7 linked regions of the Homo sapiens genome follow. The protein of the gene in region 1 interacts with the protein of each later gene in a pairwise test. Each region holds a gene or a part of one and is shown in the gene's direction. Other genes may lie near its edges.

Evidence for each region.
Region 2: the proteins of NECAB2 (region 1) and ADAMTSL2 interact in a two-hybrid assay, tested with the Homo sapiens proteins (one large-scale study listed by IntAct).
Region 3: the proteins of NECAB2 (region 1) and PUS10 interact in binary tests that used the Homo sapiens proteins (3 or more experiments, as listed by UniProt).
Region 4: the proteins of NECAB2 (region 1) and KLC3 interact in binary tests that used the Homo sapiens proteins (3 or more experiments, as listed by UniProt).
Region 5: the proteins of NECAB2 (region 1) and MYPOP interact in binary tests that used the Homo sapiens proteins (3 or more experiments, as listed by UniProt).
Region 6: the proteins of NECAB2 (region 1) and ODAD3 interact in binary tests that used the Homo sapiens proteins (3 or more experiments, as listed by UniProt).
Region 7: the proteins of NECAB2 (region 1) and ODAD4 interact in binary tests that used the Homo sapiens proteins (3 or more experiments, as listed by UniProt).

The regions. Positions count from the first base shown.
Region 1 is NC_000016.10:83,966,140-83,971,166, forward strand, and holds the start of NECAB2 (N-terminal EF-hand calcium-binding protein 2), read left to right. Parts: upstream 1-2,104; 5' UTR 2,105-2,509; coding exon 2,510-2,710; intron 2,711-5,027. UniProt on the Homo sapiens protein: May act as a signaling scaffold protein that senses intracellular calcium.
Region 2 is NC_000009.12:133,541,109-133,545,421, forward strand, and holds part of ADAMTSL2 (ADAMTS-like protein 2 precursor), read left to right. Parts: intron 1-3,361; coding exon 3,362-3,442; intron 3,443-4,313.
Region 3 is NC_000002.12:60,959,029-60,963,341, reverse strand, and holds part of PUS10 (tRNA pseudouridine synthase Pus10), read left to right. Parts: intron 1-451; coding exon 452-516; intron 517-1,793; coding exon 1,794-1,879; intron 1,880-2,824; coding exon 2,825-2,950; intron 2,951-4,313. UniProt on the Homo sapiens protein: Protein with different functions depending on its subcellular location: involved in miRNA processing in the nucleus and acts as a tRNA pseudouridylate synthase in the cytoplasm.
Region 4 is NC_000019.10:45,343,100-45,347,412, forward strand, and holds part of KLC3 (kinesin light chain 3), read left to right. Parts: intron 1-2,434; 5' UTR 2,435-2,442; coding exon 2,443-2,700; intron 2,701-3,444; coding exon 3,445-3,675; intron 3,676-4,313. UniProt on the Homo sapiens protein: Kinesin is a microtubule-associated force-producing protein that may play a role in organelle transport. Plays a role during spermiogenesis in the development of the sperm tail midpiece and in the normal function of spermatozoa.
Region 5 is NC_000019.10:45,889,156-45,893,059, reverse strand, and holds the end of MYPOP (myb-related transcription factor, partner of profilin), read left to right. Parts: intron 1-780; coding exon of another isoform or gene 781-890; intron 891-1,736; coding exon 1,737-2,437; 3' UTR 2,438-3,037; downstream 3,038-3,904. UniProt on the Homo sapiens protein: Transcriptional repressor; DNA-binding protein that specifically recognizes the core sequence 5'-YAAC[GT]G-3'. Dimerization with PFN1 reduces its DNA-binding capacity.
Region 6 is NC_000019.10:11,424,920-11,429,232, reverse strand, and holds part of ODAD3 (outer dynein arm-docking complex subunit 3), read left to right. Parts: intron 1-2,192; coding exon 2,193-2,360; intron 2,361-2,448; coding exon 2,449-2,550; intron 2,551-2,661; coding exon 2,662-2,787; intron 2,788-2,966; coding exon 2,967-3,089; intron 3,090-4,313. UniProt on the Homo sapiens protein: Component of the outer dynein arm-docking complex (ODA-DC) that mediates outer dynein arms (ODA) binding onto the doublet microtubule. Involved in mediating assembly of both ODAs and their axonemal docking complex onto ciliary microtubules.
Region 7 is NC_000017.11:41,957,820-41,962,132, forward strand, and holds part of ODAD4 (outer dynein arm-docking complex subunit 4), read left to right. Parts: intron 1-3,562; coding exon 3,563-3,647; intron 3,648-4,313. UniProt on the Homo sapiens protein: Component of the outer dynein arm-docking complex (ODA-DC) that mediates outer dynein arms (ODA) binding onto the doublet microtubule. Plays an essential role for the assembly of ODA-DC and for the docking of ODA in ciliary axoneme.

The DNA.
Region 1 (5,027 bases):
GGAGTAGGGATCCCAGGCTGCCCTGGACTTAGACCAGTGTCTGAGGTGGTAACAGCGGCCGCAGGCCAGGGTTGGCCTAGACCTGGGATTTGTGGGGAAAGCTGCTGGTGTGACCAGCTGAGCACCCAGCCAGGAGACCTGCAGCCCTGCGCCTTCCAGAAGCAGGTCCCAAATAAAGCCAGTGCCCACCTGCTCTCATGCGTCTGAGGACTCTGTGCTCGGAGGGAGCTGCGTTCCCGGAACCCTGCACTGGGCTGGGGGGAAGGGAGGAAAGGGGATTGTGGGAGGAGTCCTGGGGCATGTGGTCCTGGATGAGGTCCATGGCTGGGGCCTTGGGGTACAAAGGATGGTGCCCCAAGTGTGGGGGCAGTTGAGCGGGCAGCTGTACTAGAGTCTGGGGGTGGGAGTGGCGGGTGTGTGCAGGCAGTGATGTCCAGGAGGGCGCTGCAGCCCCGCCCCCTCCGCAGCCTGTCCCAGGCCTCCCTCCTCTCTGTTCTGCCATGCGGCCTCCTTTCAGTCCCTCCTGCTGGCCAGGTCTCTGCCTGCCCCAAGGCCTTTGCACAGAGAGTCCCCAGCCCAGGACAGTTTCCCGCCTTTCTTTAACTCCTTTTCCTTGGGATGTCTCAGCATAAGAATCACTTCCTCTAGGAAGCCTCTTCTGACACAAACCCCTCCACTGCCGTCACAGCAAATACTCCTTTCATGGTCTAAGGTGCTACCTTTTCATAGCAGTGCAGTTTTTTTTTCTTTTTTTTGAGACAGAGTCTCATTTTGTCACCCAGGCTGGAGTGCTGTGGCGCTTGGTTCACTACAACCTCTGCTTCTGGGTTGAAATGATTCTCCTGTCTCAGCCTCCCAAGTAGCTGGGATTACAGGTGACTGCCACCTCGCCCAGCTAGTTATTGTATTTTTAATAGAGACGGGGTTTCACCATGTTGGCCAGGCTGGTCTTGAACTCCTGACCTCAAGTGATCCGCCCTCTTTGGCTCCCCAAAGTGTTGGTATCACAGGCATGAGCCACCACACCCTTCCAGCAGTTCAGTTTTAATTGTTCATTTGTTTGTGGAATCATTTCAGTGTTTGGCTCTGCCCACTTGGATGTAAGCTCCAGGAGCTCTGGGAGACCAAGTACACCATCTGTTTTGCCCATTGCTGGAACTCCGTGGTTGGGCACCTGCCTGGCACCTAGTGGGTTCTCCTTAATTCATCTTTTAAATGGATGGGTGGATGGATGGATGGGAGGATGGGTGGGTGGGTGGACAGATGGATAGATGAGAGGATGGTTGGATGGATGGGAGGATGGTGGGTGGGTGGATGGATGGATGGATGGATGGGAGGGAGGGGGGTGGGTGGGTGGGTGGATGGATGGGAGGGAGGATGGATGGATGGATGGGAGGGAGGGAGGATAGATGGATGGATGGAAGGATGGTGGGTGGATGGATGGGAGGGTGTGTAGGTGGGTGGATGGATGGATGGATGAGAGGGTAGGGGGGTGGATAGATGGATAGATGGGAGGGTGGGTGGGTGGATGGACAGACAGATGGGCGGGCGGGCAGATGGATGGACGGATGGATGGATGGATGGATGGATGGATGGATGGATGGATGGGAGGGTGGATGGATGGATGGATGGAGGGTGGATGGATGGATGCCAGGGAGGGAGGATGAGTGGGTGGGTGAATGGATGGATGGATGGGAGGATGCTGGGTGGGTGGATGGATGGATGGATGAATGGTTGGGAGGGTGGGTGGATGGATGGACGGACAGTCGGCCGGCCGGATGGATGGATGGGAGGATGGGTGGATGGATGTATAGATGGATTGATGGACGGGTAGGCAGGTGGATGGATGGATGGATGGATGGACGGACAGGTGGGTGGGTGGATAGATGGATGGGTGGATGGAGTATGAAGGAAAGATGTTCTGGGGTGAAGACTGGTTCTGGGCGTTTTGTAACCAAGGGGGCGGCCTGAGGGGGCGTGCACGCCCGCGGGAGTTAAGGATGGGCGCCCGCGGGCGTGACGGGGCCGCGGGGCGTGGGCGCCGCTCCCCGGGGCTGGAGCCGGCAGAGGGCGCTCCGGGCTCGCTGGACACCCGCGCTTCGGCCTCTGCTGCGCGCCGCGAGTGGGAGGGGGGACTTTAGAAGCGGGGAGAGCAGGAGACTTTTGGGGAGCAGGCCCCAGGGGCGCCGCCCCGCCCCCAGGCCCCACATACCCCTCCCCTCCGGGTAGCCCCCTCTGTGGCTGCGCCCGCGCCCCTCGCCCCGGCGGGCAGTCCTCAGGCCCCGCGCCCGGCCGGCGGGGGTGGGGGCGGCGGGGAGCGGGCACGTGGCTCGGGGTCCGGCCGGCCCGCCCCCCGGCGCCGGCCAGTCCCCGCGGTGTCCGCGGCCGCGGGGGCAGCGGGAGAGAGGGCGGGGCGGCGCGGGCAGCGCGGGGAGGGGGTCGCGCGGGGGCGGGCCGCAGCTGGGCGGGGGTCGGCGGGCTTCCGGGCGGCGGCGGCGGGCGCGGCGCGATGTGCGAGCGGGCGGCGCGCCTGTGCAGGGCCGGCGCGCACAGGCTGCTCCGGGAGCCGCCGCAGCAGGGCCGGGCGCTGGGCGGGCTGCTGCGCTGGGTGGGCGCCAGGATGGGCGAGCCCCGGGAGTCGCTGGCCCCCGCCGCCCCCGCGGACCCCGGCCCAGCCTCGCCGCGCGGGGGCACCGCCGTCATCCTGGACGTGAGTACGCGCCGGCCGGGACCCCCGCCGTGGCCTCCGCTGGGACCCGGAGCCCCCTCCGCCCCTCGGGCGGACCCCGACGCCGCGACCCGCGAGGCCCTCCCTACCCGGGCAGGAGACCCCCGGCCCCTCCGCGTGCCGGAGCGGGAGCCCCCAGCCCCGCCACGTCCAGGCCGGTCTCCAGCCCAGTCCTCTCCCTGGACCGGGAGACCCCCCTCCTCCGCCCCTCCACCGGCGCTTCTCGGAGTCCCTGCCTGCCCACAGTGGGGAGCCGTGAGCCCCCGGACCCGGCCACTGTCCCCCTAGTTTTGTCCAAGCCAAACCCCCACCCTTTACCCCGCGGGACCGGAGCCCCTCGCCGCGTCCAGCCGCCTCCTCCTCTCCATCCCGGATCCTGTCCGGAGCGATACTTTTCTGAGACCCCTAACAACCCCTACCTCTAGCCCACCTCTCTTCGCCCTAGACCCTGAGCCCCCGTTCATCTCACGCTCAAAGACCCTTTGCCCCAGCTACTGCCACTTTAAAAGTGAAGCCCCCTCCCCACCTTCTGTCTTCTCGTCTCCTTTCCATTGAGCCAGAGCCATCGCCCATCAGCCCTGAGCTGGTACCCCTCTGGTCTTCCCCACCCCGCCCCCTTCCATTCCAAGTCCTCTGTTCCCTTCCCCACACCCCTCTACCCTACAGAGAGCTGGGTCCTCTTCATGGACCAGACTCACCCCTCACCCCTCCTAACTCCCCTGGGACCCAAATCACCCATCTCTGGGAAGCCCACCTCACCCTCCCACCCGCCCCACCCGGGAGGGAGGAATCTTCAGGGGGCGGCTCGGAGGAGGAGGACTTCTCCCAGCAGAGAGTGCTAGGAGGAGGTGGAGGAGGCTTCTGGGGATGTTGACTGCGTGTTTCAGCGAGGGTCCTGCTGGGGTGGGGCTGGGGGCTGCCTCTGCCTGTGTGGTGGATTTCTGGGAGAGTGGTGGGTGTGTGTGAATGTGCACACGCGTGTATCGCGGATCCCTGTGAGTCGGGGGATTCCCTCCCTTCCTCTCTCCTCTTCCCTGCTCCTGGAACCCTTGGCCGGGGTCTGGGCTGGGAGGGCCGGCCAGAGCAGGGGGAGCTCTAGAGTGCCACACTCGCAGGCACACATTCACACACTCACGCACTCGCTTACGCACGCACACACAGCCAGAGACACACCCATGCAGCCAAACCATCCCCTCCTCAGGACCCCCGCAGAGCTCCCACTGAAAGTCCTGGGCAGAGCCCTGCAGCCCCAAGCTGCCCTGCATGGAAGCCCTGCCCAGTCAGGGTGGGGGCTCTGAGGTTCCATCTCCTCACCTGCCAAAAGGAGTGATGAGCGGGGGGTGGGGCGGGAGGTGCTCATGCAGACTCCTGGAGCTGGCTGACATTACCAGGTGTCAGCCCTGCCATGTCACTCATGTGTTCAGCATTCCTGCCCAGAGCCGGCACCTACCTGGTGCCTGGCCTCAAGGGGGATCTGGGACACCCAGATAGGGACCCCAGTTTTGAGGAGCCTTGCCCAGTCAGGAACGGGGCTGCGGGGTGCCCAGGCTGGATCTTTGAGGAGGGCTTGGGGATCTGAGGTTCAGCCAGGAGGAGGGGTGATGTTTGAGAGGCCCTCCCATAGCTGTGCTTCAGTCTCACCGCCCAGGTGCCTAGAAATGACCAAGGGTGCCCCCTTTCTCGTTGCCTGGAGGGATGGGGGGCGAGGGCATCTGTCCTTTACCCCAAGGCGAGGACAGAGGGTGGAAGGGTCAGAGTGAGTATTACCTCCTCCTCCTCCATGGCTGACCTGGCCCCAGCAGCCCTCCCTGGTGTCGGGAAATGTGTACATGTTGCTGCCTCTCCCTGGGTCTCAGTACCCTCCTTGTTAAAACAAGCCACTGAGATTGGGGTGGGGGCCACCGCAGAAGCTGGGATCCTTCTCAGGCTTTAAAGTGCTGGTGGGCAGGGCGCCGTGGCTCACGCCTGTAATCCCAGCACTTTGGGAGGCCGAGGCGGGTGGATCACCTGAGGTCAGGGGTTCGAGACCAGCTTGACCAACAAGGTGAAACCTCGTCTCTACTAAAAAATACAAAAATTAGCCAGTTGTGATGGCGGGCGTCTGTAGTCCCAGCTACTCGGAAGGCTGATACAGGAGAATTGCTTGAACCCGGGAGGCAGAAGTTGCAGTGAGCCAAGATCGCGCCACTGCACTCCAGCCTGGGTGACAGAGCGAGACCCCATCTCAAAAAAAAAAAAAATAGTGCTGGTGAATCAGTCCCCGTGGGAACTGGTTACAGTGAAAGGTCTGACTCCACTA
Region 2 (4,313 bases), on another chromosome or scaffold:
CCCTCTAGGGGCACCTGATTCAGCATCCCAGGCCGGGTGAGCTGGCCTGGTGATTGTAGGCCTCCGTTGGCTTGCAAGAATGGGCAACCCTTTGTTGAGGACCTGCTGGGTACCAGTGGACACTTGGCTTGGGGGTCACATTTGCCCTTTGAGACAGCCTGCAGGGAGGTGTTAACAATGCACCTTTTTTTTTTTTTTGAGACAGAGTCTTGCTCTGTTGCCCAGGCTGGAGTGCAGTGGCTTGATCTGGGCTCACTGCAACCTCTGCCTCCCAGGTTCGAGCGATTCTCATTCCTCAGCCTCCCGAGGAGCTGGGACTACAGGCATGTGCCACCAAGCCTGGCTAATTTTTCTATTTTTAGTGGAGATGGGGTTTCACTATGTTGGCCAGGCTGGTTTCGAACTCCTGACCTCGAGCGATCCACCCGCCTCCGTCTCCCAAAGTGTTGGGGTTATAGGCATGAGCCACCATACCTGGCTAACACCACACTTTAAAAAGGGAGAAACTAAGGCCCAAGACCCATTCTCTCCACGGATATGAGGTTTGACCCTGGCACGCTGGATTCTGGGGCCTGAGTTTCAGAGGCTCCCTGTCGGCTCCAGGCTGACCCAGCCCAGAACCCCTCCTTCCCTTGGGCAGCACCTGTCCCCTTCCTAAGCTGCAGGCATTTGGCCCGATGTTTGTGTCCAGCTCTGTCCCAGCCCTCATCGGGGGTGGGCGTCTGTGCATGGGACAGCACTTTCTACTTTTGGAGGGATGTCACTTGTAATGCTTGGCATTAGATTGAACACACTTTTGGTTCTGAAGAAATGTTTGAGGAATGGAACTGGGTTATTGCAACCTCCAGACCTGGGAAGGCAGGACAGCTTCAGACCCACTTAGCAGATGGGGAAACCAAGGCCCAGAGTGGGAATAATCTGTCAAGGTCCCAATGAGGCCAGTTGACTCTGGACTAGAACCAGGCCTGTTAGGGCCACGGAGGACCCGACCGTGTCTTGAAGGTCGAGGGAATGACCTCAGCCTGCCACTGAGGGCTAACTGTGGCGTGAGTGTTGGCTCCAGGAGGTGCCAGTGGGAGGGCACTGGAGAGGGTGGGGCTTGGACATGGGACCTAGGGACGGGCGTGCCGGACTGACAAGGGACAGGCAGGGGTGTGAATAATGCGGGCTGGGTGTCCAGCAGGGCGAGGTGGGCAGAGGCCCTTTCTTTGGAGGCCTCGCTCTAGGAGCCGCTAAGGTGTCTGATTTTCCTCCCTTCCTCTCACAAACCTGCTCACACGGCCTCCTGCTGGACCCAGGGCATGCAGAGGGAGAGTGGGCATTGGGGCAGCACGTGTCTTGTAGGGCACGTAGTGTGTGCCAGGCACTGTGCACACAGTGAGGCCTGAGAGATAGGGCTCATGTCCTCGTGGAACTCAGCCTGGGGCCAAGGGGCTGACATGCAAACAGCGCCCCTCATTCTTCTCCATATTCACAAGGTAACTCATTCACGCCTGGCAACAGCTCTACAAGGCTGGCACTATTACTGTTGCTGAAATATACAGAAACAGTCAAAGAGAGGCTAAATAACTCATCCAAGGTCACACAGCCACAAGAGGCAGAACGGGGCCTGAACCCAGGCAGCCTACTCTTGGCCTGTGATCCTCCCAGCTGAGCCACACTCTTTCCCCGGACGAACTGTGCTTGGTAACCACGCTGGGGGCTGTGGGATGGGCTGGGGTATTAAATGCTCAAGAATCTTGTGAGCTGCTTGCTAATTTGAAAATTAAAGTATAACAGTCTATATTTAAATACATTATATTTAAAACAAAGTCACCATTTTCTAATCCTTTAGTGTCTATAACTATTTTTTTTTTTGAGACGGAGTTTTGTTCTTGTTGCCCAGGCTGGAGTGCAATGATGCGATCTCGGCTTTCTGCAACCTCCGCCTTCTGGGTTCCAGCGATTCTCCTGCCTCAGCCTCTCAAGTAGCGGGGATTACAGGCTCCCACCGCCATGCCCAGCTAAATTTTTTTTGCATTTTTAGTAGAGACAGTGTTTCACCATGTTGGCCAGGCTGGTCTCGAACTCCTGACCTCAGGTAATCTGCCCGCCTCGGCCTCCCAAAGTGTATAACTATTTTATCTGTGTGGCAAAAACACCATATACGGGTGTGCTGCAGCCTCTCTTCCCAATGCCACACCCAGTGATATCAGGTTGGTAGTGCAAACAAACATAGCTTCAGTCGCTTGCTTCAAGCTTCTATCTTGAAACCCAAAGAAGGGGAAAAATGTTTTAAAATGCATTTTGAAGTTAAGCTGCCCCATTACAGTGGCTTGAAATTGGCCACAGCGGGGGTGTTTACACCACGGAAATTGGCCAATGCTACAAGTCACAGCTCCTGTTCCCCTGTGTCTCCAAAGAGCCCACTGTTAAACATTTTCCAGAGCACGGCTGTCTGTGAGGGACAGGTCAGGATCTCCAGGGACCTGTAGGTGTGATGGTGTTAGGGGAGGGATGGCAGGCGGGTACTGGCCTGCAGGAGACACTCACCCCAGCAGGGAGATGCACGCGGAATCCTCCGTTCCCAGAGGGATCCGGTGAGACAAGCGTCAAGCCTCAGGAAACGTCCGACCTGGAGAGCCCCTTCTTTCCTGTCCCAGGGCGTATTAAAATCTCTCCTTCTCCCCAGGCTCCTCTCTCAGCCACCTGCCAGCAATGCCTCTCCTTCTCTGAGCACCTCCCCTCCAGACCCTTGGTTTCTTTCTAGCTGGGAGGACTGCATGGCTGCCTCCGCACGGGCCTGGGGGCCTTGAAGACAGGCTCTGAGCTGGCTGATATTGCCCGATCTGGATCTCAGCCTGGGGCCTGGTGCTTAGGAAGGGCGTAGGCTTAGTTGGAGATTCTATCTGCAGCTCTCCTTGTCCTTTCTCACCCACGTCTTTGAGTGTAGCTAGCCTTGAAAGTCAACGTGTTGTTGTCACAAGACAGGATTTTAAAATGGCAGTGACAATGCACGCAGGGAGCTGGGGCTCCATCGGCTGCCCAGGGTCTCCTGGGTGACACATGGCAGAGCCGGACTGAACTCCCAGTGTGCTCCATGTCCCTGTGGCCCTCGCTGTCCCTCGGGAGGGGCTGGGGCAAGCACGGATGAGCCTTCCTATGGCCTTGGTAGGAAGGGGTGAGCCTGGGCAGGTGCCCAGCTTGGTGAGTCAGCCTCTGCAATGGGACGGGGCTGAGCTGAGCTACACAAGCGGGTGTGGGGGTTGGGCCAGCCCTTAGACAGCCACCGCTCACCCTCCAATAGCTGTGGAGTGGGCGAGTGCCACCCAAGGCTGCCTTTCCAATCAAGAGGGGCTCACTGTCATCCTTTTGCCTCCAGGTTACTCTCTGGTGACCCACATCCCGGCTGGTGCCCGAGACATCCAGATTGTAGAGAGGAAGAAGTCCGCTGACGTGCTAGGTGGGTACGCAGTGTCTGGCAGCTGCCTCACTGAGCTTTTGGTTGTGGAGCGTTGTGCGTGGCAGAGAAGGGGCACTTGACCCTGGACCCCTTCCTCCAGGACAGGGATGGACCAGTGCTGTGGGCATGGCTGCAGGAGCCAGAACTTGAGCCAGCTGTGTGGGTGTGGCTGGGGTGCTCACAGGGGAGCCAGCTTTACCCCTGTGCATGGCAGGACCTTGAACTCAGAGCTGCTGGACAATGGGAGGGTGGTGATGTTGGGTGGTGAGCTCCCTGTCACTCGAGAGCCTGGCACAGGCAGAAGCTGGGGGCCGCTGCAGATGAGATCCCTGTGGGGTTCGAGGAGTGAGTCTCAGGAGATGACAAGGTCAAGGTAGCACTGAGAGGAAGTCGGTGCAGAGGTAGGATTCCGACTCAGGTCTGGGGTCTCATGCTGATGTTCTTGCCATTAGTCAGACTCCGCTGGGAGGCTGGGCTGTAGGAGGGGAGTCCTCTAACCTGAGTATTCTGGAGTTGTTTCCATGATGGACAGAGTGGTGAGGCCCCATCTTGGTGGCAGATTTTGAGTGTAGGGAGCCTTGGTGGCAAATTTTGGAAGAGCCCTCTGGGAAGATGGAGTATTGGCCGAGCAGCGTGCCATGTCTGCACCCCTTGGGCCACAGTGGGCAGGTGCTGACACCTGTGAGCTGCTCTGTGCTCGGCCCTTCCCTTTATGGGGCGGGCTTGGGTATAGGGACGCTGTTCTTGGACACAGGTGCAGCCCCAAACCTGACACTACCTGGGTTTACTCCCCCCACTGCCTCCCACTCTTCTTGAGAGCCAGAACTGGTGGGGTGAAGCCCATCTCCTAAGGGGGTGCTGGAAGAGGAGG
Region 3 (4,313 bases), on another chromosome or scaffold:
GGCAGCCAACTCCTAAATTACATACTGTGGCCTCTGAAGGGATGTAGGAAAGAAAAGGTAGCTGAATCAATCTAAATTCCTGTTGAAGTCAAGGGAAAAAAAATTAAATCACACTTCCTACAGTGTCATCATGTTTTGTATTTGAATTATACCATAATTTGAGAGAAGTGGGACAGTGTGGTGAAGAAGACCTGTTCTGCTAGATCTGCCTGTTATTATAGACAAAGACCAGATTGAAGAGAAGGGTTACAGAGGTATGCCAGTTGCAGAACTGACATGAATGCTTAAGTTTTATTTATTTTCTTGAAATGCTTAAGTATTTCTCCATGTTAAGTATATGAAATGATATAATGAAATGATACAATTTCTCCAGCCATGTTCTGTGTTTCACGTCTGATGTTTTCTTGTCTGGATAATAAAATGTCTTTTCTTCTCATTTTACCCTATATAGTCTGTATTCACTAGAATGGCAGTTATGAAAGCCTTGAATAAGATAAAGGAAGAGGATTTCCTTAAGTAAGTAGAAGTTTAGAAACAAAGAAGCATCGTGAAATTTTAGAATAAAGGGAATGTTAGAGATAAGCTGGATTATCTCTGAAACAAGATGATGTATTTCAGGGGCCAGGATTGTGTCTTAGTCATTGTTATCTCTCCAACCCATGGTGCAGTACCTGGCATATGTGGTGTTCAGTAAATGTTTGTCAAATTAATATCAAGTCTAACGTCTTTTTTTTTTAAAAAATACTTATTTATTTATTTATTTTTTTGAGACAGAGTTTCACTTTTGTTGCCCAGGCTGGAGTGCAGTGGAGCAGTCTCGGCTCACTGCAACCTCTGCCTCTCGGGTTCTAGTGATTCTCCTGCCTCAGCCTCCCAAGTAGCTGGGATTATAGGCATGCACCACCACTGCCCGGCTAATTTTTTGTATTTTTAGTAGAGACAGGGTTTCGCCACGTTGGCCAGGCTGGTCTTGAACTCCTGACCTCAGGTGATCCACCCGCCTCGGCCTCCCAAAGTGCTGGGATTACAGGCGTGAGCCACCGTGCCCGGCCGAATCAAGTTTAACTTCTTGATCTTTTAGAAGAGGGTAGTGTGTCCAAAGAAGGAGTTGACTTGCCTAAGCTAGTAATAGAGTAGACCTGGAGCCAGATGTCCTGAAATTCTAGCCCAGTGCTATGCCTATTACATCCTTAGTCCTGTATTTCCTAGTATCGTTCATCTCCAGAAAAGGGAGAGGAAGGCTCATGAGTTTCCTCACTTGTTAAAATATGCTAAAATAAAATAAATGCAATAAACCTTACATTTTAATTCTTGGTACATTCATTTTATTAAATAAAATATTACTGTAAGTTTTCTTTCCAGAAGATCCTTCAATACATTTCAAACGATGATGTGATAAGGGGGGTAGAGTCAGCAGTAAACTGCACATGACCATGGACAGCAAAATGGTTAAAGAGCCTGAAGGGGCTTCCACTTCCTATGTATGGATTTTTCCCTCAAATCTTGAGGCTATTGGAAAGTATTAGGTTGGTGCAAAAGTAATTGCAGTTTTTGCCTCGGAAGATAAGTCCTCCCGAAGGTGAAAGGTAGCAGCAGAGCCCTTATTTACTTAGTGCCACTCTCATATGTTAAAATTGTTACTCCACAGGCCTGCAAGACCTGTATTGTTGCGAAACTAAAAGTTAGAGAGAGACTTGGGCTCTGTGTATGTCTCAGACAATGCTGATTCATCTAAGTTTTGTGATTCAATATTATGTCTGGAAAATAGCTATAAAATTTATTTTGTTTTGCAGGCAGTTTCCTTGTCCTCCAAACTCACCAAAGGCTGTATGCGCTGTTCTTGAAATTGAATGTGCTCATGGTGCTGTTTTTGTGGCTGGTAAAATATTTAGTCTAGAATATACATACACTGTGAACGTACTCTCCTTTCTAAAAACTCAGCTGACTCCTGTTCTATTTTATTCTTATTGTTGTTATTAGATTCTAATAAGTTTACTCTCTTGAGAAGTAGAATCAATAGCCAAACTTATTTTAGGTTTTGTGGGCATTCTAAAGGATCACTTAGGAGATCAGTTATTTTAAATGCCATGCCAAAGGGAAATGACACTTCCTAGGTTTTAATAGTTCTCATCAGAGATGGCCAAGTAGAAATATGGGTAGATGCAGAGACCCAAAACTGGTTTGGAGAAAAACAGCAGGACAGAGGCTATTTTATAACATAAAAGCAAACTTGAAAAAATAACTTATTATCTCCAAAATGACTAAACACTTGGCTTCCACTGGAAAGAAATTGTTCATTGACTTTCCTAAAAGGTAATCTGGCAGACAAATTTTTGTTTGAAAGTTACAACTGTTTTATAGTAATAGCTGAAGTGAAATTGCTCTTCAGCCTTGACTATAATATCCTATCCTAGGGCAATGAAAGCTACCTGCCTTACTGTAGCTTTACTCATCAGGTGTAAAAGCAAGTTTGGTTGCGTTTTTTTTTTTTTTTTTTTATCCTTGGTATATTCATAATATTATATAACTTGTTTAGTCAGCCAATCAAATTAAATATATTGAGCATTCCTTTCAAACTCATTTGATGTACCATTCATATCATATATTTACCCATCTATTTTATTGTTACTTTAAACCTTTTTATTTAATTATCTACATGTATATGTCCCAGGTCTCCAAATTGGATTGTTAGTTAGGTAAAGGATAGGCCTTGTTTTATATCGTAGCACTTAGGATATTGGCCCTTATAGTTGTTGCTTCTCTTTTTATCCTACCATGTTAATTACTCCATTCCATCCAGGCTATCTGATTATTTCTTTCTCAGGGAGATATAATAAATACTCCAGGAATCTACCACAAACTCCTTGGATAATTGATGGAGAAAGGAAGCTGGAATCTTCAGTGGAAGAATTAATTTCAGATCATCTGTTGGCAGTATTTAAAGCAGAGAGTAAGTGTTACGATCTTCATACTTTTCTTTCTTTTTTTTTTTTTTTTTGAGATAGGGGCTTGCTTTGTCAACTAGGCTAGATTGCAGTAGCACGATCACAGCTTATGGCAGCCTTGACTTCCTGGGCTCAAACGATCTGCCCACCTTGGCCTCCTAAAGTCCTGGGATTATAGGCATGAGCCACCCCACCTGACCTAATCTTCATATTTTATTCTCTCTCTCTTTTTTTTTTTTTTTTTTTTGAGAGAGCCTGTCACCCAGGCTGGAGTGCAGCCTCAATCTCCCAGGCTCAAGCAACCCTCCCATTTCAGTCTCCTGAGTAGCTGGGACCACAGGTATGCACCACCATGCTCGGTTATTTTTTAACATATTTTTAGAGATTGGGGGGTCTCACTATGTTGCCCAGGCTGGTCTCGAACTCCTGGGCTCAAGTGATCCTCCTGCCTGGGCTTCCCAAAGTGCTGGGATTATAGGCATGAGCCACTGCACTTGGCCATATATTTAATACACTGACATTCATGAATAGATTTCTTGGGGGTGGCAGGAAAGATTTCTATATTTTGTTAATCACTACCAAGTCTGGGCCTCTTGGCCATAGGCTTCCTGTGCCTATGGCATCATGTTCTGGGTGCCGCTGGCCTGGGCTGGATTTCAGCCAAGGCACTCGAGAATATCTGCCTGTCCTCTCTCAAGATGATTGCTCTGCCGAGTGCAGTGGTGCGCACCTGCAATCCCAGCACTCTGGGTGGCTGAGGCGGGCGAATCACTTGCAGCCAGGAATTCAAGACCAGCCTGGGCAACATGGTGAGACCCTGTGTCTACTAAAAATACAAAAATCAGCTGGGCATGGTGGTGCGCACCAATAGTCCCAGCTACTTGGAAGGCTGAGGCACGAATCGCTTGAACCCAGGAGGCAGAGGTTGCAGTGTGCTGAGCTCGCACTACTGCACTCCAGCCTGGACGAAAGAGTGAGACTCTGCCTAAAAAAATAAAAAATAAATTTGAAAAATGACTGTTCTCTCCTGGGGAAATTCAAAACAACTGAAACTACTTTAAATGAATGCACCTAAGCCCTGACCTTGGTACACCTCAGCCTTGGCCTCTTTGGGGGAATATGAGGAAATTAAAACACATCTTCCACATCCAGTGCTTCTTCAAGAGTAATCACTGGCAAGTGTTTGGCTTCTCTCTTAACCTGTAAAGTGTCCTGGAATAAAGTTCAGGCCTAGAGAAAGTAAATCAACAGCAGCCATTTTACAAAGACTGAATGGCAGCTGTAATGTTTTTGAATTTAGGTATTAACGAGCCCAGGTTCATGGGATGAGTCAGGTTCCATCAGGTTTATGTTTTCCTTGTCTCAACA
Region 4 (4,313 bases), on another chromosome or scaffold:
AGGGAGAGGAAGTAGGGAAACTGGCGAGGGATCCATAGTGAATCTTGGGAGTGTGTGCATCTGGAGGTGCGTTGGGCACATTGTGGGGAGTTGGCTGCTTGGGAGCCATGTGAGTTCGGGGGACAGCGAGTGTCACGGTCAAGTGCAAGGAGATGGTCTGAATGTGAGTGATTTGGGGAGTGGGAGAGACAGAGTTAGTTTCTGCGTGGGTTGGCTTTTCTTTCTTTTTTTTAAATAATATTATCACTTTTTGACACGGAGTTTTGCTCTTGTCACCCAGGCTGGAGTGTGGTGGCGTGATCTTGGCTCACTGCAACCTCCGCCTCTCAGGTTCAAGCAATTCTCATGCCTCAGCCTCATGAGTAGCTGGGGACTACAGGCGCATACCACCATGCCTGGCTAATTTTGTATTTTTAGTAGAGCCGGGGTTTCACCATGTTGGCCAGGCCAGTCTCAAACTCCTGACCTCAACTGATCCACCCACCTCGGCCTCCCAAAGTGCTGGGATTACAGGCGTGAGCCACCGCGCCCAGGCTTGGTTTTTATTTCTAAGAGAATATACCTGTGTGTTGGGAGTGTATACAGATTGTTTTTGAAAGAATAGTATATGTGTGTGCCTGAGTCAGTGTGTTGTCTTAGGTTGTATTTCTAAAAGGAAAATGTAAATGTTTTTACTGAGTTGTATATTTAATAGGAGAAAGTGAGTGCGTGTTCTAAGAGGAGAATGTATATTATGCTGTCCTTTCTTTCTTTCTTTTTTGACTGGGTCTTACTCTTTCACCCAGGCTGAGTGCAGTGGCACTATCATGGCTCACTGCAGCTTCAACCTCCTGGGTTCAAGCAATCCTTCTACCTCAGCCTCCAGGTACACCATCACCACACCCAGCTAATTTTTTTATTTTTATTTTTGTAGGGATGGGGTCTCACTATGTTTCCCAGGCTGGTCTTGAACTCCTGGGCTCAAGTGATCCTCCTGCCTCAGCCAAAATCCCAAAGTGCTCGGAGTACAGGTGTGAGCCACCGCACCCGGCCTACATTGTGTTTCTAATGAGGGAGTGTGTGTGTGTGTGTGTGTGTGTAACTGTATTTCTGGGAGGGTGTGTGTGTGTACCGTCTTTTTTTTTTTTTTTTTTAAATGAAGTCTCACTCTGTTGCCCAGGCTGGATTGCAGTGGTGCGACCTTGGCTCACTGCAACCTCCGCCTCCCGGGTTCAAGCAATTCTCCTGCCTCAGCCTCCCAAGTAGCTGGGACTACAGGCATGCGCCACCATGCTCTGCTATTTTTTTTTTTTTTTTTCCAGTAGAGACAGGGTTTCACCCTGTTGGCCAGGCTGGTCTTGAACTCTTGGCCTCAAGTGATTTACCCACCTTGGCCTCCCAAAGTGCTGGCATTACAGGCGTGAGCCACTACACCTGGCCCCATGTTGTATTGGAGAGAAGGGAGAGTGCGTGTGTGTGTCAAATTGTATTTCGGAGAGGAAAATGTGTATGTTGCATTGTGTCTTTAAGAAGGGAGGGTGCGGGTGTGTGAGGTGTTTCTGAGGAGTGTGTTTGTGTGTATATGAGGACCCCAGAGGCACCACCAGCTAAGTTTCTGTGACCTTGTCACCCACATACAACCACATGAAGTCCCATAGAGGGGGGCCCCCACCCACTATGAGCTGGGCTTCAGACTCTCAGCTGTCACATGGCCAGTGTGACATACCTGGACCACACCTATCACACGTGTGTCCCGACAGGCCCTGGGCTGGCTAAGCTTGTCCGATGGAGGAGGGCGGAGCCCCTGTTCCCCCAGGGTCCATCTGTTGCCTGGGAGCCAACACATGGCCCCATCCTCATTCCCCCCAACCTAGAGGCCTCCTGGGCTTCTGGGGGCCCTGGCCCCTCGGCCCTCTCCTCCCACCCCACCCACCCCCAGTGGTCTGACTGGTTCCCGACAAAAACACCCTAAGAATGAGCTCACGCAGAGGCTGCCGCCTCCACACGCCCCGCCTCACTCTGCCGGCAGAGGAGGGTGCCTCTGGTCCCAGGTCACACGGCCAACCGGGAGCTCTGGGCCAGGGGATCCAAGGGCCTTGGGGTGGGGAAGGCTGGCCAGGTGAGCTGAGGGCAGATGGGGGACCCCAGGCTAGCTGTTTGCTTTCTCTTGGTTAATTACACATAGGATTTGGGAACTGTCCTCAGGGCAGAACCCTGGGTTGGGAGGACAGACGAAGGTAGACAAGACTGTTCCAGATGAGAGCTGGCTGGGATGGGTGTGGAGACTGGGATGGAGAGGGTGTGGAGGCAGAGGGCTGGCCAGGATGGGTGGAGCAGGGAAGAGCCAGGATGGGGAGAAGTTAGGGGTCCTGATGGCCATTATGGGAATAGAGGCTGGGGGCCAACTGACTGGCCCGGGCAATGATTCCCCAAACCCCTCACCATTGCTCCCCAGGAGCAGCAATGTCTGTGCAGGTAGCGGCTCCTGGAAGTGCAGGGCTGGGCCCAGAGCGCCTGAGCCCTGAGGAGCTGGTGCGGCAGACGCGGCAAGTGGTCCAGGGGCTGGAGGCGCTGCGGGCAGAGCACCATGGCCTGGCTGGGCACCTGGCGGAGGCCCTGGCGGGACAGGGCCCGGCAGCCGGCTTGGAGATGCTGGAGGAAAAGCAGCAGGTGGTGAGCCACTCGCTGGAGGCCATCGAGCTGGGGCTGGGCGAGGCCCAGGTATGAGGGGGCCAGGTGGGGAGCTGGGGGAAGGTCAGCTGAGGGCGGAGGGAGGGCCAGGCATGAGGGGGACAGGTATGTAGGGGACTGGGAGAGGGTTCACTATTGCAGAGGGGCACACTTTGGGAGGCTGAGGTGGGCAGATCACTTGAGGTCAGGAGTTCAAGACCAGCCTGGCCAACATGGGAAAACCCCATCTCTACTAAAAATACAAAAAGTAGCTGGGCATGAGGGCTCCTGTAATCCCGGCTACTCAGGAGGCTGAGGCATGAGAATCGCTTGAACCTGGGAGGCGGAGGTTGCAGTGAGTGGAGATCGTGCCATTCCACTCCAGTCTGGGTGACAGAGAGAGACTGTCCCAAAAAACAACAGAAAAAAGTATGGCAGAGAGGCACATCCGGGGCAGGGGGAGGCCTAGGGGAACCAGGCCTGGGAAGGGGAGGCTCCAGGTCAGAGATGGAGTCCCTTGGCAGCTTTAGGGGGTCCTTGTGTGTGACAGGGACCCCTGAACCAGATGGCATTCTTCAGTAAACTGTGGGTCCTAGGGCAAGTTTGGGGGTAAAATCAGAGGGGCCCCTGGGAGCCTCTGAGGGCACTGGGGCCATGTTGGCAGAGTCTCTGCAGAATCTGGGGGTGTCGTGCATAGTAGTGGGGTGCTACGGCCTGACTCGAGGCCTGGGCTGGGTCAGGGGCCGTCTGGCAGGGCAGGAACCAACCTCGACTTGGGACCCCCACCCCGGGCAGGTGCTGCTGGCCCTGTCGGCACATGTGGGTGCACTGGAGGCAGAGAAGCAGCGGCTGCGCTCGCAGGCCCGGCGGCTGGCCCAGGAGAACGTGTGGCTGCGGGAGGAACTGGAGGAGACGCAGCGGCGGCTTCGGGCCAGCGAGGAGTCCGTGGCCCAGCTGGAGGAGGAGAAGCGCCACCTGGAGTTCCTGGGGCAGCTGCGACAGTACGACCCACCGGCGGAGAGCCAGGTGCCACGGGCAGGGCGAGGCGGGGGGTGCTGGGCCCTTCATAGAGCCCCACAGTCCCCCAGACCCTCCTTAGAATCCCACAGTCCCCAAGATCCTCCTTAGAATCCCACAGTCCCCCAGACCCTCCTTAGAATGCCACAGTCCCCCAACCCTCCACAGAGCCCCCAGACCCACCAGAACTTCCACAGACGCCCCCACTAGCTACTCCACGAAGCCCCCGAGCCTCGCCAGACCCCCAGGGGGCCTCTGACGCTCGTGACCACCACCTCCCTCAAACCTTGAGATAGGCTGGGTGCGGTGGCTCACGCCTGTAATCCCAACACTTTGGGAGGCCGAGGCGAGCAGATCACCTGAGGTCCGGATTTCAAGACCAGCATGACCAACATGGAGAAACCCCGTCTCTACTAAAAATACAAAATTAGCCGGGTGTGGTGGCACATGCCTGTAATCCCAGCTACTCCGGAAGCTGAGGCAGGAGAATGGCTTGAACCCAGGAGGTGGAGGTTGCTGTGAGCCAAGATCGCACCATTGCACTCCAGCCTGTGCAACAAGCGAAACTCCGTCTCAAAAAAAAAAAAAAAACAAAAAAACAAAAACCTGAGATAGAGCCAGGGCCCCGGTCTCTGAAACAAGCCCCC
Region 5 (3,904 bases), on another chromosome or scaffold:
TCAGGTGATCCACCCGCCTCGGCCTCCCAAAGTGCTGGGATTACAGGCATGAGCCACCACATGCGGCCAAATTTGCCTATTTTGGACATTTCATATAAATGGCCCCTGTGATCTGTGGTTCTTTGTGACTAGCTTGTTTCCCGTAGCCTAACTGACTTGTATTTTGGTTGGACCCCTCAGGCTGCTGGTGGAAAAAGATACTGTCAGGGACAGGGGTGGAAGCAGAGAGCCCTCAGGGAGGCGATGACTGCAGTGGTCCTGGTGGGAGATACTGGTGGTTGGGCCAGGGTGGGGGACCAGGAAGAAAGAAGTTGTATGTATTTAATTTGAAGGCAGAGACGATAGCTTCTGTATGTGGATGGTGTCTTAGTAAACAAAACAGTGAAGGTGTTTAACCTGAGCAGCTGGGAGGATGGAGCTGCATCAGCTGAGATGGGGGTGGCTGAGGAAGGAGCAGGGTGGGGGAGGATCAGAAGCCCAGCTCCGAGCAAGTGAGTTTGGGGCGTTTTTCGACAATTGAGAGTACACAGCTGGAGACAGGAGTCTGGAGCCCAGGCGAGAGGTTCAGGCTGAGCCCAGGAAGCTGGGAGCCCCTGTATGCAAACTGTTCAAGCCCATGAGCATGAATGAGACCCCAGGTGAGTACAGACTGAGGAAACCTACCAGGCTGGGGGCTGAACTGGAAAATCCTGCTGTCCTGGTTGGAGAGAGTCTCAGGGAAGTGTCCACCAGTGCCCAGACACCCCAGCTCTCTCCCAGACCTCTCTCTCACTTCCTCAGGATCCAGCAGTGTGGTGCAGTATCCATATAGTTCAGAACCTCGTCAAATGTTGGCCCTTGTCCGAGCGCAGTGGCTCACACCTGTAATCCCAGAACTTTGGGAGGCCGAGGTGGGTGGATTGCTTGAGGTCAGGAGTTTGAGACCAACCTGGCCAACATGGCAAAACCCCATCTCTACTAAAAATACAAAAATTTAGCCAGGCGGGGTGGCGCCTGCCTGTAATCCCAGCTACTTAGGAGGCTGAGGCAGGATAATCGTTTGAAGCCGGAAGACAGAGGTTGCAGTGAGCCGAGATCACGCCACTGCACTCCAGCCTAGGCTACAAAGTGAGACTTTGTCTCAAAAAAAATTAAAAAAATAAAAAAACTGTTGGCTCTTACTGTGAGTGAGATGGGAGCTGCCTGGCCTAGCAAGGGACTTCCAGGACCTGTTTCCACTAAAGCTGGCAGGACTTTTTCTCCTCCGGGTACAAAGACTGGCCTGCCATGGAGCTTCTCTTCCAAGGCATGATCTGACTTAGGTTTTAAAAGGATCATTCTGGGGCCAGGCGCGGTGGCTCACACCTGGAATCCCAGCACTTTGGGAGGCCAAGGCGGGCGGATCGCCTGAGGTCAGGAGTCCGAGACCAGCCTGGCCAACATGGTGAAACCCTGTCTCTTATTAAAAATAGAAAAAGTAGCCGGGTGTGGTGGCGGTCACCTGAAATCCCAGCTACTCGGGAGGCTGAGGCAGGATAATCGCTTGAACCCAGGAGGTGGAAGGTGCAGTGAGCCAAGATTGCACCACTGCACTACAGCCTGGGTGACAGACCAAGACTGTCTTGGGGCTGGGGGGCGGGGGTGAGAAGGATAGTTCTGGGTTCGGGTAGGGGGGAGGTGAGGGAAGGAGTGGGAAAGGGGAAATCAAGGCAGCATCGAGGGTCGCTCACCCCTTACCTGTATTTCTCTCTCTACAGATACATCAGCCCACAGCAAGGCGGGCTCCAGCAGCCCGGAGCCATGGGCCCGGCCCTCCTGCACTCCCCAGGAAGGGGGCTGCCCACGGCCCAAGGAGCGTGAGTCACCACCCCCTTCGGCCCTGCAGCCGGTCCAGCTGCCTCGCCTGGCCTTGTCTCCACCACCCCCAGCCCCTCCACTGCCACCCCCACCGCCACTGGCCCAAGTGGCACCCTCACCCCCTAGCCCCCCACCCCCTCCTCGGCCTCCACCCACGCTCTCGGCCTCAGACCCCTCCCTGGACTTCCTGCGGGCCCAGCAGGAGACTGCCAACGCCATCCGGGAGCTGGCCGGCACCCTTCGACAGGGACTGGCCAAACTGAGCGAGGCCCTCAGCGCTCTGCTGCCCCTTCTGCCAGGAACCCCAGTTGACTCCCTGCCTCCACCTCTGCCCCCACCCCCACCCCCACCGCCACCTCCCAGGCCTGTCCTGCCCCCACCGGCCCCCAAGGTGGAGATCACCCCAGAGCCCGTGTCCGTGGTGGCTGCTGTGGTGGACGGGGCAGTGGTGGCAGCCAGGGGAGTGATCATTGCCCCAAGGAGCGAGGAGGGGGCACCCCGGCCCCCCCCAGCCCCGCTCCCTCCGCACGACTCCCCCCCACACAAGCGGAGAAAAGGTTTCCCTACACGGAAAAGGCGCGGCCGATGGAAATCTCCGTGAAATCTACTATCTATGATCCTGCCTGCAACCCCTCTCCCCAGCTTGGCGCAGTCGAGGGGGGCGATGCTCTCTGCCCATCCCAGCTGCACCCTAGCTCCCTGCTCCAGGGATGTGAGCACCCACTCCCTGTGCTAGTTAGTGCCTGATTCTCTGGGGGGGGCCTCAGTAATGGGCCCCCCCAACCCCTTTCTCTGGTACAGTGCTGTCTGCCTGGCTGCCTCCCTTAACCCTGACTTCTAAGCCATCAATTTCATGTTATTTATTATTGCCCTATGTGGGGTGGGGAGGGAACCTCTCGGGTCTGCACATCTCCCCTTCCCTAACAGTTCCTGTTCTTGACTTGAAGAGAATTGACCCGTGGGGGACTCCCCACCTCCCCAACCCAGACTTTGGAGCGGGTGGGAGTTGTAAGACAAATCAAAATACGGATGACAAAGAGGATATAGCCGTGTATACCCCAGGGAGAGGAGGCGCCGAGTTCTGATGGGAGAGGTACAGGTTGGGTTCTCTGCCTACCATTGCTGTCTCTGACTTCCAGAGCTCAACCCCCTCCTTTCTCCCAGTGGTGACAAGATATCAATAAACTTATTTTTAATACAATTACTTGAGGCTCTGTCTGAGACAGGCCTGGGGGACCAGCACCTACACCTGCCCCGCCCCCTCCACAGGCAGGCAATTGGGAGGCTGGTGGTTTTCCAGCTTTTTTTTTTTTTTAATTCTTAAAGCCATCAAGTCTTGTGTTTACATGAAATCTTATTCCTACTCTTCCTTTAGATACCAGTCTAAATGTCAACTCCAGGAGAAAGTCCTAGATTCCTTCCCCAAGGCTAACGTGGGTTTGCCTCTTAGAGTCTCTTTCAGTGTCCTGTGGTTCTTTTTCTTTTTCTTTTCCTTTCTTTTCTTTTCTTTCCGTTTTTTTGAGATAGGATCTCGTTCTGTTGCCCCAGCTGGAGTGCAGTGGCATGATCACAACTCACTGTAGCCTCGATCTCCCAGGCTGAAGCAATCCTTCTGCCTCAGCCTCCCAAGTAGCTGGGACCACAGGCATGTGCCACCATGCTCAGCTAATTGTTTTATTTTTCTAGAGATGGGGTTTTCTATGATGTCCAGGCTGATCTGGAACTCATGGGCTCAGGCAGTCCTCCCACCTCGGCCTCCCAAAGTGCTAGGATTACAAGCATGAGCCACCACACACAGCTGGGTTCTTTTTCATAGTGACTCTAAATGAACACAGGCCTTTATCTATTTAAGGCACATTTGCCCATAATGTCATGAAGGCAGGAACTGGTTCTTTTACTCTGCTGCAGGGCCAGGTAACAAAGTAGATAATCACCACCACTCTGGACTCAAGACGTGGCTCAAGTACTGGTGCTGCCCTGGCCAACTGTGTAACCATTGGCTTCCAGTGTCCTCATCTGTAGAATGGACATAAAGATGTCAGAGTCTTTCTTCCTATAATTAGATTAT
Region 6 (4,313 bases), on another chromosome or scaffold:
TCTCAAAAAAACAAAAACAAACAAACAAACAAAAACAAAAGATAAAAAATTAAAGGCCGGGCGCGGTGGCTCACGCCTGTAATCCCAGCACTTTGGGAGGCTGAGGCGGGCGGATCACCTGAGGTCGGGCGTTTGAGACCAGCCTGGCCAACATGGCGAAACCCCGTCTCTACTAAAAATACAAAAAATTAGCCGGGCATGGTGGTGCATGCTTGTAATCCCAGCTACTCAGGAGGCTGACGCAGGAGAATCCCTTGAACCCGGGAGGTGGAGGTTGCTGTGAGCCGAGATCATGCCATTGCACTCCAGCCTGGGCAACTCTGTCTCAAAATAAATAAATAAATAAATAAATAAATAAATAAATAAATAAAAAATAAAACACAGTCTAGGCATGGTGGCTCATGCCTTGTAATACCAGCACTTTGGGAGGCCAAGGCTGGAGGATCACTTGAGCCCAAGAGTTTGAGACCAGCCTGCCAACATAGTGAAACTTTGACTCTACAACAAATACAGAAGATTTGCCAAATGTGGTGGCACAGGATTGTAGTCCCAGCTACTTGCCAGGCTGAGGTGGGAGGATCACCTGAACTGGGGAGGTCGAGGCTGCAGTGAGTCATGTTCGTGCCACTGCACTCCCGTCCGGGTGACAAAGCAAGGCCTTGTCTGAAAAAATAATTATAAAAATTAAAAGGCTGGGCGTGATGGCTCACGTCTGTAATCCTAGTACTTTGGGAGGCCAAGGCAGGTGGATCACTTGAGCTCAGAAGTTCATGACCAGCCTGGGCAACATGATGAAACCCTGTCTCTACCAAAAATACAAAAACGTACCCAGGCGTCGTGGCATGCATCTGTGGTCCCAGCAACTGAGGACGCTGAGGAGGAAGGATCACTTGAGCTCAAGGGGCGGAGGTTGCAGTGAGCCAAGATCGAGCCACTGCACTCCAGCCTGAGTGACAGGGTGAGACCCCATCTCAAAAAACAAAACAAAACAAAACTGGGCTGGGTGCAGTGGCTCTTGCCTGTAATCTCAGCACTTTGGGAGGCCGAGGAAGGAGGATGGCTTGGGCCCAGGAATTCGCGACCAGCCTGAGCCACATAGCGAGACCCTGCCTCTATAATTTTTTTTTTTTTTTGAGACAGAGTCTCGCACTGTCGCCCAGTATGGAGTGCAGTGGCACGATCTTGGCTCACTGCAAGCTCCGCCTCCCGGGTTCTCGCCATTCTTCTGCCTCAGCCTCCTGAGTAGCTGGGACTACAGGCGCCTGCCACCATGCCCGGCTAATTTTTTGTATTTTTAGTAGAGACGGGGTTTTACCGTGTTAGCCAGGATGGTCTCGATGTCCTGACCTCGTGATCCACCCGCCTTGGCCTCCCAAAGTGCTGGGATTACAGGCGGGAGCCACCGCGCCCAGCCTAAAACATTTTTTAAAAGAAAAAAATGGCCAGAAGATAGCTGGGTGAGGTGGCTCACGTCTGTAATCCCAGCACTTTCGGAGGCCGAGGCAGGTGGATCACCTGAAGTCAGGCGTTTGAGACCAGCCTGGTCAACGTGGTGAAACCCTGTCTCTACCCAAAATACAAAAATTAGCCGGGTGTAGTGGCACATGCCTGTAATCCCAGCTACTTGGGAGGCTGAGGCAGGAGAATTGCTTGAACCTAGGAGATGGAAGTTGCAGTGAGCCGAGATCGTGCCACTACACTTCAGCCTGGGCGACAGAGCGAGACTCCGTTTCAAAAAAAAAAAAAAAAGAAAAGAAAACAAAAACAAAAATTAGCCAGGCGTGGTGGTGGGCACCTGTAATCCCAGCTACTCGGGAGGTTGAGGCAGGAGAATGGCGTGAACCCAGGAGGAGGAGGTTGCAGTGAGCCGAGATTGCACCACAGCACTCCAGCCTGGGTGTCAGAGCAAGACTCCGTCTAAAAAAAAAAAAACGAAAGAAAGAAAAATTTAAAAATATTTTTTTAGAACCCTGAGCCGGTGTAAGATCGCCAAGGTGGTCGATATAGACAGAGAGAAGACTCCGGTGCTCTCTCTACAAAAACAACACAGAAGGGGTGGCCAGGGAGGTGGGTAGAAAACGGGAGAGGGGAGTCCTGGAAGCCACAGTGTGGGAGAAGGAAGGGAGGAAGGGCTAGGTGTGTGTCGGGGTAGGGTGTTGAGGCTCCTGCTTTCGCTCCCCTCCTTGCGGCAGGCCCTGGAGCACCTAGACCACCGGCTGAGGGAGAAGGTGAAGCAGCAGAACGCCCTGCGGCACCAGGTGGTGTTGCGGCAGAGGCGGCTGGAGGAGCTCCAGCTGCAGCACAGCCTGCGCCTTCTGGAGATGGCGGAGGCGCAAAACAGACACACGGAGGTGGCCAAGGTAGGGGCGGGTGAGGCCTGCAGGGCAGAGGGTCGTGTGGGAGGGATTGAGTGCGGAGGGCCCTCAGCCCAGCCCTGCTGCTCTCCAGACCATGCGGAACCTGGAGAACCGCCTGGAGAAGGCCCAGATGAAGGCGCAGGAGGCCGAGCACATTACCAGCGTGTACCTGCAGCTCAAGGCCTATCTAATGGTAGGGACTAGGAGGGCTCGGGTGAGATGACAAACAGGGAGGGCGGGCTTGGCTAGGGACAGCAGTCACAGACCTGCACCATCTCCGCTACCCCTCCCCACCACGCCCCAGGACGAGAGCCTCAACTTGGAGAACCGGCTGGACTCCATGGAGGCTGAGGTGGTGAGGACCAAACATGAGCTGGAGGCACTGCACGTGGTGAACCAAGAGGCCCTCAATGCCCGGGACATTGCCAAGGTGCCACCCCTCTTGCCCTCGGCCATCCTGCCCAGCTGCCGCGGTCTCCCAGCTTGAGAATCTGACCTCAGCTGTCCCTGAGCTTCCCCTACGCCCCCGCCCCCATCTATCTCCCAGCACCCTGCGGCGGGCAGTGGTAGGTGCCAGCTGGTCTCCCTGCTACCCTGCCCGCCCTCCAGAACCAGCTGCAGTACCTAGAGGAGACCTTGGTTCGAGAGCGCAAGAAGCGGGAACGCTACATAAGTGAGTGCAAGAAGCGCGCCGAGGAGAAGAAACTGGAGAACGAGCGCATGGAGCGCAAGGTGGGCGCACCCAGGGGTGCGCGCCTGTGACTCCAGCCCAGCCCAGCACAAACCAGCCATGCCCTGGCTCTCCCTCATCCTAGGCCTTCTCCCATTTTCTGTTTCTCCTAACCCCGCCCCCTCTCTGACTCCACCCCCACTTGGTGCGAAGACCCCTCCCACATCCCTGACCCCGCCTCTCCTCCCCTCCCCTCCTAAGCGACTGCACCATTTTGGCTCTGACATGGCCTCCAGCCTTCCCCTTACTCAGTGACCCCCCTACCCATCCTTTCCCACCTGACTAGACTGCCTGTCCTGAATCTGACCGTGCCTCTGAGCCAACCGTTGCCTAAGGCCCTGCCCCCTCACTCTTGGCCCCGCCCCTGCACCTGCCCTGAGGCTGCCTCCCATCCAGCCCTCACCAAAGCCCTGTCCTGCCTTTTTGTTTTTTGGGTTGTTGTTGTTGTAGTTGTTGTTTGATAGGTTTTTTTTGCATATATATATATATATATACGTATATACATATATATACATATATGCATATATGCATATATACACACACATATATACACATATACATACATATATACATACATACACACATATATACATATATACATACATACACACATATATACATATATACATATATACACACATATATACATATATACATATATACACACATATATACATATATACACACACATATATGTATATATACATATACACATATGTGTATATACACATATATGTATATATACATATACACATATGTACATACACACATATATACACATATGTACATATACACATATATACATATATACACATATGTACATATACACATATGTACACATACACATATATACACATATGTACATATACACACATATACACATATGTACATATACATATATACACATATGTACATATACACACATATATACACATATGTACACATACACATATGTATATATACACATATGTACATATACACATATGTATATATACATATGTACATATACACATATACACATATGTACATATACACATATATACATATATACACATATGTACATATACACATATACATATATACACATATACACATATATACACATATGTATATATGCACATATGTATATATACACATATATACATATACACATATGTACATATACACATATATACATATATACACATATGTACATATACACATATATACATATATACACATAGGTA
Region 7 (4,313 bases), on another chromosome or scaffold:
CTGTCACCCAGGCTACAGTGCAGTGGTGTGACTACAGCTCACTGCAGCCTTGATCTCTGGGCTCAAGAGATAAGTATCTGGGACTACAGGTGTGGGCCACCATGCCTGGCTGATATTTTTAATTTTTATTTTTTGTAGAGATGAGGTCTCACTATATTGCCCAGGCTGGGCACTTGAGAGCTCCTGCACTCAAGCGATCCTCCTGTCTCAGCCTTTTAAAGTGTTGGGATTACAGGTGTGAGCCACCACACCCGGCCTAAACAGGTTTCTTATGCCTCATAACATATGCTGTTATCTCTGCCTGGAATATTCTAAACCTTCCCTTCCCACCTCCTTCACCTGGCTAACTCCCACTCAACCTTTAGGTTTCAGCTTAGATGTCCCCTCTTTGAGGCGGCCTTCTCTGACCCCTCAGTCTGGGTGAGGAGCCCTCACATCAGGTTTCACAGCCTTGATATGTCCCCCATCAAAGTCCACGTTGTGCACTTGTAATTGCCTAGACTTCCATTGCTTAAGGAGGCAGCTGCTAGCCACGTGAGGCTAAAGTTAATTAAAACTAGGCTGGGTGTGGTGGCTCATGCCTGTAATCCCAGCACTTTAGGAGGCCGAGATGGATGGATCACCTGAGGTCAGGAGTTTGAGACCAGCCTGGCCAACATGGTGAAACCCCATCTCTATTAAAAATACAAACAATTAGCCGGGTATGGTGGCACACACCTGTAGTCCCAGCTACTTGGGAGGCTGAGGCAGGAGAATCGCTTGAACCCGGGAGGTGGAGGTTGCATGAGCCAAGATCATGCCATTGCACTCCAGCCTAGGCAACAGAGCGAAACTCCATCTCAAAAAAAAAAAAAAAAAAGTAAATAAAATGTAAAATTCTCAGTCACACTAGCCACATTTCAAGTCATTATAGCCACATGTGAGGCCGGGTGCGGTGGCTCACACCTGTAATCCGAACACTTTGGGAGGCCGAGGCGGGTGGATCACGAGGTCAGGAGATTGAGACCATCCTGGCCAACATTGTCTCTACTAAAAATACAAAAAATTAGCCAGGTGTGATGGCACACTCCTGTAGTCCCAGCTACTCGGGAGGCTGAAGCAGGAGAATTGCTTGAACCTGAGAGATGGAGGTTGCAGTGAGCCAAGATCACGCCACTGCACTCCAGCCTGGGCGACAGAGCGAGACTCCGTCTCAAAAAAAAAAAAAAAGCTACATGTGGCCTATGGGTGCTACATAATACAGATCTAGAATATTCCCATTGTCACAGAAATTTCTGTTGAATAGTGCTGGCCTAGACTGTGTCAGGAGGCAGAGACCAGGGGAGAAACTTGGAGGTGCTCTGGGCTCCCCCACCCCACCCACTCCCAGTGCATCCAGGTGGACGCACAAGCTTAGTAAAGTCTGCACACCAACTTCACAGGTGCACACTCACCCAGGCCTCTTCCTCCTGCTTCTGACCAGACAGCTTCCTTAAGCCCTTCCCACAGCCAAATTCCAGAGCACCACTGGCACGCAGCTGGACCCCAGGAAGTATCTGCTGGAGTGAAGTAAACGGGGCCCCTGTCCTTGGGGAGCTTATGCCATCATTGAAAGAAGCCAGATTGCATAACTTGTGGGCAGCAAAGGGGCATGGCCTCAGGGACCAGCCTGGGGTCTGCAGGCACTGGGCAAAGAGAGCAGGGACCCTGAGAAGTGAAGGCTCAGGACACTCCCAGTGGGAGGAAGACCTCATGCTGTGCTCTGAAGGACAAGGATAGCAGAGCTGGCCAGGCCGAGGAGGGGCAAGTGCACTGAAGACGTGGGAGGTCGGCGCTGAGGGCTGGTGGCCGGCAGAAGAGAGATCCTGGCCTGGGTCCCAGAGCTGGGGGGTTCCCGGTGGCGGGGGATGGTGGTGACAGAGCCCCAGACAGTCAGCACACCAGCCTGGACTTGAAGGGCTGTGGACAGCAGAGAAGTGATCTGATCACCTCTGTTTTTTGGGAGGCAGGTTCATGGTGAGCTGTTTGTGAGGACTGTGGTAAGGCTAACACTGCCCTCTCATGGCGGAGAAATCATACCCAAAAGACCCCAGCAGGCGCAGTCTATCCTCTGCCACCATACGGCCCAGGGAAGCCCAGGCCTAGCATGTTGTCGTCCTCGTCATAAATGCCATGTCCCCAGCTCTGGCTTCCAGGCGAAGAGCACCCACCTCACTGCAGCCCTGCCAGATGTACCATGCGCCACATACTTCCATGTGATCGCCCTGCAGACAGACAGCATGGCCGTTCAGTTCAGGAAATATTCGCCGAGTGTAGATTGGCTCCAGGCTGCCAAGCTCAAATGTGTGCGGCCATTGTCCTAGCCCACAAGAAGATTACAACGAAAGGCCAGACACAGTGGCTCACACCTGTCATCCCAGCACTTTGGGAGGCTGAGGGCAGGAGGATCACTTGGGTCCAAGAGTTCTAGACCAGCCTGGGCATCATAGCAAGACCCTGTCTCTTAAAAAGAAAAAACAAACAAACAAAAAAACAGTTACTCAGGAGGCTGAGGCAGGAGAATGGCGTGAACCCAGGAGGCGGAGCTTGCAGTGAGCTGAGATCGTGCCACTGCACTCCAGCATGCATGATAGAGCGAGACTCTGTCTCAAAAAAAAAAACAAACAAACAAACAAAAAACAAAGCACAAACCCTGGTTCATGACCAGTGCCATAGGGGACTAGGGGAATTCAGAGTGAGAGAGCCCCAGCTGGGAGGCAGAGCTGGAGGCTTTCCAACAAGGAGGATCTGAGGTCACCTTGAAGGCTAGGCAGTAGTTTGAAGGGTTAGGGGCAGAGAGAAGGTACCTGTGACCCTCACTGACTCCTCATGGGACCAGGCCCCCGACCCCTCACCCTCCTGGATTGGCAACTCCAGGTAGGAAGGCTCACAGTGGGAGGGAGGTGGGGGGTGGGCAGACCAACACCACAAGAGAGTGCATCCAGGCCCCGGAGCTGCTCAGTAGACACTACCATGTGTAGCTGGTGTTCTGTCAGTGCCAGCCACGGGCCTGCTATGAGCAAGAAGGCAAGACCTGCCCTCCAGAGGCTCACAGGGGCTCCAGGCCCCTGTGGATCATGCACTCGAGTTGGGGAAACTGCAGACATTCTGGAAGGCCCTTCTGAAGGCAGGCCAGCCCCCAGCCTGTCCCCTTGGTGTGTTTCTGGGTCTTTTCAGTGCTGCCTTGCTGAGTGCTTGCAGGTTTGGATTGTCTTTTTGCATTGACTGAAGCCAAAAGCAGCTTTAGGTAGTTCATCTAAAGGTAGAAATGAGTAGATAGACACAACTCCCAATACATGCCTAAGCCAAAGAGAAATGCATTTGACTGACTCGCAGTCATGTATCTCCCAGACACAATTTGTGTGGATCATTCTGAGTCAGTAAGTGTAGATTAACCTGAGGGTAGGGGTCATTGGAGGGGCCAGAGGGAAACCAAGGGTGGCAGGTTCCCACCAGAGCCCTGCCTTCTGGGATTGATCTGGGTGGGGAAAATTAATGGTGTAGGTGCCAAACACAGGGGCTAAGCTCCCTCTACCATCCACAGGCCTTGGACGATGCCAACAAGGGTATCATCAGAGAACTGAGGAAAACCAACTACGTGGAGAATCTCAAAGAAAAAAGCGAGGGAGGTGAGTTCCTGAAACTCTGAAAAGGCAACTTCAGCATTCTCCCTCTGCTTTCTTTTCCTCTAGTCCGAGACACATGCGACAGCAGCTCCCCAATCTGGGGGCTTGGCACTGCCCATCGTGCATTCTAATTTCAGTGCCACCAGCAGCCCTAGCCTATCTCTGGGGCAGTAGAGGGTGAGGATTCAGCCCACCATGGGCTGGACTGTCTGGCCCCAGAGCGCACTCATTTCTCTCTTCAATTGATTCATCAAGTATATGGTGAGCACTTGTCATGTACCTGGAAGGTGTTAGATTCTGGGGAGAGAGGCCCATCCCTGCCCTGGAGGAGCCCATGGCCCTTTGGGCAAGGCTGACCAGTGGAGTTGTCAGCTGCTGGGATCCTGCACACAGGTGCTACACCGAGGTGGAGGTGTGCTGCCATGAGGGTGCATGCAACGGGGCGTGGGCTCCTCTGGGGAGGCAGAGGAGGCTTCGACGAGGAAAAATCTTCTACCTCCAACTCCAAAAGATGCCCAGGAGTTTTCCAGGAGAGAAGTGGGAGAAGAAAGGCATTTTTCCAGCAGGGAACAGCAGGGCCAGAGGCACAGAGACAGAATAACAGTAGCTACACTTTGGGGGCTCTTACTGTGTGCTAGGCACTGGGTTAAGCACCAGACAGGAGTGATC